Linked DNA regions of Homo sapiens: region 2 is linked to region 1. Evidence: fine-mapped expression QTL. A gene starts in region 1. The other region holds a variant in brackets. All regions are shown on one strand. Distances are between the middles of the regions.

Region 1 (2,913 bases):
TTTCCAAAGAATTCATGTTTGATTTTATTGGTTTTCTCTATTTTTTTTTTCTGTTTCAAGATTTCTTCCCTTTAGTATTTCCTTCATCCTCCTTACTTTAGGTTCAATTTGCTGTTCCTTTTCTAAATTTTTAATGTGGTATCACAAATTATTGTTTTCATTTCTGGATCTTTAATGTAGACATTTTTGTCTACACATTGCTTTATTGTTAAAGCATTAGATGAAACGTGGTGCTCACTGCAAATGTAGTCCCTAACAGAGAACTTTCCTACTGCAGTGATCCCTGTAACCTGAATAAAGATTCCCTAAGTAATGATCCAGTGCTTTAATAGTACTAAAAATAAATACTATATTTTGCATCAATTTCTGTAATTAAATAGAATAATATATACCTTCTAGCCAGGTTTAGGCTTCAGAAACAAAATATAATCCTAGTCTTTTAAGGTATCTCAGTTCAGAATCGCGGAGATGCTTTCTCATGCTGCCTGTTCTTTTGGACTTGCCTTCGTTTGCCTGTCAAACCAAGGGACCAAGTGGTCTTTGTTATTTAAGTCATGTTGCTCTGGAATGTAAATTATCCTTACTGTTGGTGCAAGATGTATTCCATTGCCTTGTTCTGCTTTTTAGTGTAGCCATCCTGTGCTTGTATACCCAGGGCCAATCACATTCTATCCTCAAAGAAATGTATGTCTTTCTCTTACAGTTCTCTTTAGAATTATTAGCAATTTTATAATTACTAAAGTGCTATGTAATTCTAAATAAGGTCTCAGCTGTGGGGTATAATGGTAAATTGAGACCCCTTTTACAATGGAAAAATAACTGGTTATAACGGTGAGCTGGGACCCCATTACAATACTCTCAAAGTTTCCATTTTAGTGGTAAGTAGTGTCAGATGTCAGTGTTTAGAATATTTCAGTGGTTCCAGGACCATCTCAGGAGGTGAATTTTGGGCCCATCCTAGTCAGTCCAGTGAAAGTCATTTACTCTCTTTTGCTTCTAGCAGATGACTCATGGACATACCCTGGAAATAAGGACACACTGTGGACTCAGAGGACATACCTGAGGTACTGGGAGAAAGGGGTATGGGGGCTTAGCTGGGAGGCCTGTTGTGCTGAGCAGGGGTTCAGGGGCTCAAGGGTCTTTCAGAATAACTGATAACTCTCTAGTTTTGGCCCAGAAGTTTCTTCCAGAATGTCACAGCATGACCCATGTTTTTTGTCTCACTGCAGAGCCTTTGCAAGGTTCAGTATGGTAGCCACCAGGCATACCAAGCTGAATATTCCTTCTTTCCTTCTGGGGAAAATGCCTGGTGCAAGTTGTTCTGCCTGACTTTGCCTTTTAGAATTCTGACAATGGAGTAGCTATTTAACTTTAAATAAATTGAAACAAAATAAAATTTAAAATTCAGAACTGCAATCACACTCGTCACATTTCAAGCGCTCAGTAGTCACGTGTGGCTAAGGGTCACCATCTTGGACAGCACAGAACAACCCCATCCCTGCAGAAAGTTCTATTAGAGCTGCTGGATGATCAGGTGGGCAGGTCCCTTGCACAAGTAAATCTGGACAGCTCCTCCCCTCACTTCCTCTCTTCTCCTGTTTCTCAACATCCTGGCTTAGTATTGTGTGCAAAATCAGAGAGGGGTGCAAGATCCTGATTTTTCAGGTAAGGGAATAGGGGTGTGTGTGGTGGGGGTCGGGACGAATGTGCGATTTTGGTGAGGAGGGACCTGTATCTTAAATCGTCTGGTAAACATGTTTTCAGACTATATTCTCGCTGGTTCCCGTTTCCTGGCTTTGCTAATTTTAGGCTGTGATCTGTTTTCAAGGCTGAGCCCTACAAATCAATGCCTCTTCCAGAGATTGCTGCTCAGAGGATACTTGTTTTACAAATAAATGTTTCCTCTCGCTGGTTGTGGAATTTATATAGAAACTTTGATTCTTCCAGGGATAAAGTTGGGTGAGCGGACAGAATTAGCTCTGGGGGAGCTGGTGGGAAGAGGAACATTGGGATGTGTAAGGGGCACAGCTCCATATGTGGCCCCACAAAGACTGCACCCAGGTCAGGATTGGAGGCTCTGCAGTCTGAGGTCTTGTTACAGGGTTAACTGTCTGCTCGGAGCTGCCCGTTAGGGAAACTGTCTCCTCAGGGACAGTCCTGGGTTTACTGGGCATTGAGCTCCCCTTTAGCGGGTAGGAGGAGGGAGATGCCACCTGGTGTGACTCTCTACAGTTCAGGAGAAGCTGGATGCTGATGGGTGCTTGTTCCTTAGGCAGAGAGAGGAGAATTCAGCCACCTGAAGTCAGCACCTACAGAAGCACAGTCTCCTGGCTTTGCCTCTGAATTATTAACAGCAGAGCAGCATTAAAGAGCCCACACACTAGAAGGAGGATATGAAGAAACACCCAGAGAATGTCACAAAAACCCAGAATGTCACAGTATTGTTTTCTTCTTGCTGGTGTCCTATCCTCTCTCCTAACACCAGCCACCAAAGCTGATTTTTAAAAAATGCCATGATTTCTCTTGTTTACAAGAAGCTGTTTCCTATACCCTATTCTTGAAGGATAAAGAAATAGTCATTCAAAAGAAATATCTGGCTTTTCACAGTGTTTCATATTTGTTGGCTTCCTATGAGGTGACTCTGTCTTTAACAACTACCATTTTCTGCCTGTTTTGTTCAAAGTCTGCTCCAATAAGAGTTCTTCAAATATCTTTCTCCATTGCAAAATGTTTGTAGGTAGCAATGAAATAAAACATTTAAAATTAATACCATGTTTCTATAACACTACATATTAATTAATAAAGGAATGGATTGTCATTTTCACAGATCAGATGTGGGCTGGACATAATGATCAATCAAAGGCAAGAAGCAGGGAGATTATCCATTTATTTATTTAACAATGATCGATAACC
Region 2 (2,913 bases), 70 kb after region 1:
TGTTTTGAGAAGTGTCTGTTCATATCCTTCACTCACTTTTTGATGGGGTTGTTTGTTTTTTCTTGTAAATTTGTTTAAGTTCTTTGTAGATTCTGGATATTAGCCCTTTGTCAGATGGATAGATTGCAAAAATTTTTTCCCATTCTGTAGGTTGCCTGTTCACTCTGATCATAGTTTCTTTTGCTGTGCAGAAGCTCTTTAGTTTAATCAGATCCCATTTGTCAATTTTGTCTTTTGTTGCCATTGCTTTTGGTGTTTTAGTCATGAAGTCTTTTTTCATGCCTATGTCCTGAATGATAATGCCTAGGTTTTCTTCTAGGGTTTTTATGATTTTAGGTTTTAGGTTTAAGTCTTTAATACATCTTGAGTTAATTTTTGTATAAGGTGTAAGGAAGGAGTCCAGTTTCAGTTTTCTGCATATGGCTAGCCAGTTTTCCCACTACCATTTATTAAATAGGGAATCCTTTCCCCATTGCTTGTTTTGGTCAGGTTTGTTGAAGATCAGATGGTTGTAGATGTGTGGTGTTATTTCTGAGGCTTCTGTTCTGTTCCATTGGTCTATATATCTGTGTTGGTATCAGTACCATGCTGTTTTAGTTACTGTAGACTTGTAGTATACTTTGAAGTCAGGTAGCGTGATGCTGTACTACAAGTCTACAGAACTTTGTTCTTTTTGCTTAGGATTCTCTTGGCTATGCAGGCTCTTTTTTTGGTTCCACATGAAATTTAAAGTAGTTTTTTCTAGGTCGGTGAAGAAAGTCAATGGTAGCTTAATGGAAATAGCATTGAATCTACAAATTACTTTAGGCAGTATGGCCATTTTCACAATATCGATTCTTCCTATCCATGAGCATGGAATGTTTTTCCATTTGTTTGTGTCCTCTCTTATTTCCTTGAGCAGTGGTTTGTAGTTGTTCTCCCTGAAAAGGTCATTCACATCCCTTGTAACTTGTTTCCTAGGTATTTAATTTTCTTCATAGCAATTGTGAATGGGAGTTCACTCACGATTTGGCTTTCTGCTTGTCTATTATTAGTGTATAGGAATGTTTGTAATTTTTGTACATTGATTTTGTATCCTGAGATTTTGCTGAAGTTTTTTTATTAGCTTAAGGAGTTTTGGGGCTGAGATGAGGGGTTTTCTAAATATACAATCATTTCATCTGCAGAGACAATTTGACTTCCTCTCTCCCTATGTGAATACCATTTATTTCTTTCTCTTGCCTGATTGCTCTGGTCAGAACTTCCAATACTATGTGAATAGGTATGGCGAGAGAGGGTATCCTTGTCTTGTGCCAGTTTTCAAAGAGAATGCTTCCAGCTTTCGCCCATTCAGTATGATATTGGCTATGGGTTTGTCATAAATAGCTCTCATTATTTTGAGATATGTTCCATTAATACCTAGTTTATTGAGTGTTTCTA[A/G]TATGAAAGGGTGTTGAATTTTATCGAATGCCTTTTCTGCATCTATTGATATAATCATGTGGTTTTTGTCATTGGCTTTGTTTATGTGATGGATTACATGTATTGATTTGTGTATGTTGAACCAGCCTTGCATCCCAGGGATGAAGCCAACTTGATCGTGGTGGATAAGATTTTTGATGTGCTGCTGGATTTGGTTTGGCAGTATCTTATTGAGGATTTTCACAATGATGTTCATCAGGGATATTGGCCTGAAATTTGTGTGTGTGTGTGTGTGTGTCTGTTTCTGCCAGGTTTCAGAATCAGGATGACTCTGACTCATAAAATGAGTTAGGAAGGGGTCCCTCTTTTTCTATTGTTTGGAATAGTTTCAGAAGGAATGGTACCAGCTCCTCTTTGTATCTCTGGTAGAATTTAGCTGTGAATCCTTTTGGTCCTGGGCTTTTTTGGTTGGCAAGCTATTAATTACTGCCTCAATTTCAGAACTTCTTGTTGGTCTATTCAGGGATTCGACTTCTTCCTGGTTTAGTCTTATCCATTTCTTCTAGATTTTCTATTTTATTTGCATAGAGCTTTTTATAGTATTCTCTGGTGGTAGTTTGTATTTCTGTGGGATCAGTGATGATATCCCCTTTATCATTTTTTATTGTGTCTATTCGATTATTCTCTCTTTTCCTCTTTATTATTCTGGCTACTGTTCTATTTTGTTAATGTCTTCAAAAAAAAAAAAAAAACCAGCTCCTGGATTCATTGATTTTTTTAAGGGTTTTTCGTGTTTCTATCTCCTTCAGCTCTGGTCTGATCTTAGTTATTTCTTGTCTTGTGCCAGCTTTTGAATTTGTTTGCTCTTGTTTCTCTAGTTCTTTTAATTGTGATGTTAGCGTGTTGACTTTAGATCTTTCCCACTTTCCGATGTGTGCATTTAGTGCTATAAATTTCCCTCTGAACGCTGCTTTAGCTATGTCCCAGAGATTATGGTACATTGTGTCTTTGTTCTCATTGGTTTCAGAGAACTTTGTTATTTCTGCCTTAATTTCGTTATTTACCCAGTAGTCATTCAGGAGCAGGTTGTTCAATTTCCATGAACTTGTGCAGTTGGGTGAGTTTCTTAATCCGGAGTTCTAATTAGATTTCAGTGTGGTCCAAGAGACTGTTTGTTATGATTTCCATTCTTTTGCATTTGCTGAGGAGTGTTTTAGTTCTAATTAGGTGGTCAATTTTAGAATAAGTGCTATGTGGTGCTGAGAAGAATGTATATTCTGTAGATTTGGGGTGGGGAGTTCTTTAGATGTCTATTAAGTCCTCTTTGTCCAGAGCTGAGTTTAAGTCTTGGATATTCTTATTAATTTTCTGTCTTGTTGATTTGTTTAATATTGACAGTGGGGTGTTAAAGTCTCCCACTATTATTGTGTGGGAGTCTTAAGTGTCTTTGTAGGTGTCTAAGAACTTGTTTTATGAATCTGGGTGCTCCTGTATTGGGTGCATATACATTTAGGA

Which allele goes with the higher level. Positions count from the first base shown, and alleles are read on the strand shown. Sizes are in standard deviations (SD) of each study's normalised expression.
In carriers of allele A in region 2, the expression in non-classical monocytes of the gene that starts at base 1,618 in region 1 tends to be lower than with G alone (moderate effect, 0.40 SD a copy in Schmiedel 2018).

Evidence for each region. PIP is the estimated chance that this variant, and not a neighbour inherited with it, causes the effect. A credible set is the group of variants that fine-mapping cannot tell apart.
Region 2: its variant is the best candidate, but not a certain one, in a credible set for the expression of GIMAP4 in non-classical monocytes (Schmiedel 2018, PIP 0.52).

What each region holds. Positions count from the first base shown.
Region 1 is chr7:150,565,773-150,568,685 of GRCh38, forward strand. GIMAP4 (GTPase, IMAP family member 4) reads left to right here and starts at 1,618. Exons shown (of 3, transcript NM_018326.3): 1 at 1,618-1,665.
Region 2 is chr7:150,635,441-150,638,353 of GRCh38, forward strand. No RefSeq gene overlaps it. Among named protein-coding and RNA genes, the nearest start is that of GIMAP6, 4.5 kb to the left of the region's middle. The variant A/G (reference allele first, on the strand shown) is at 1,420.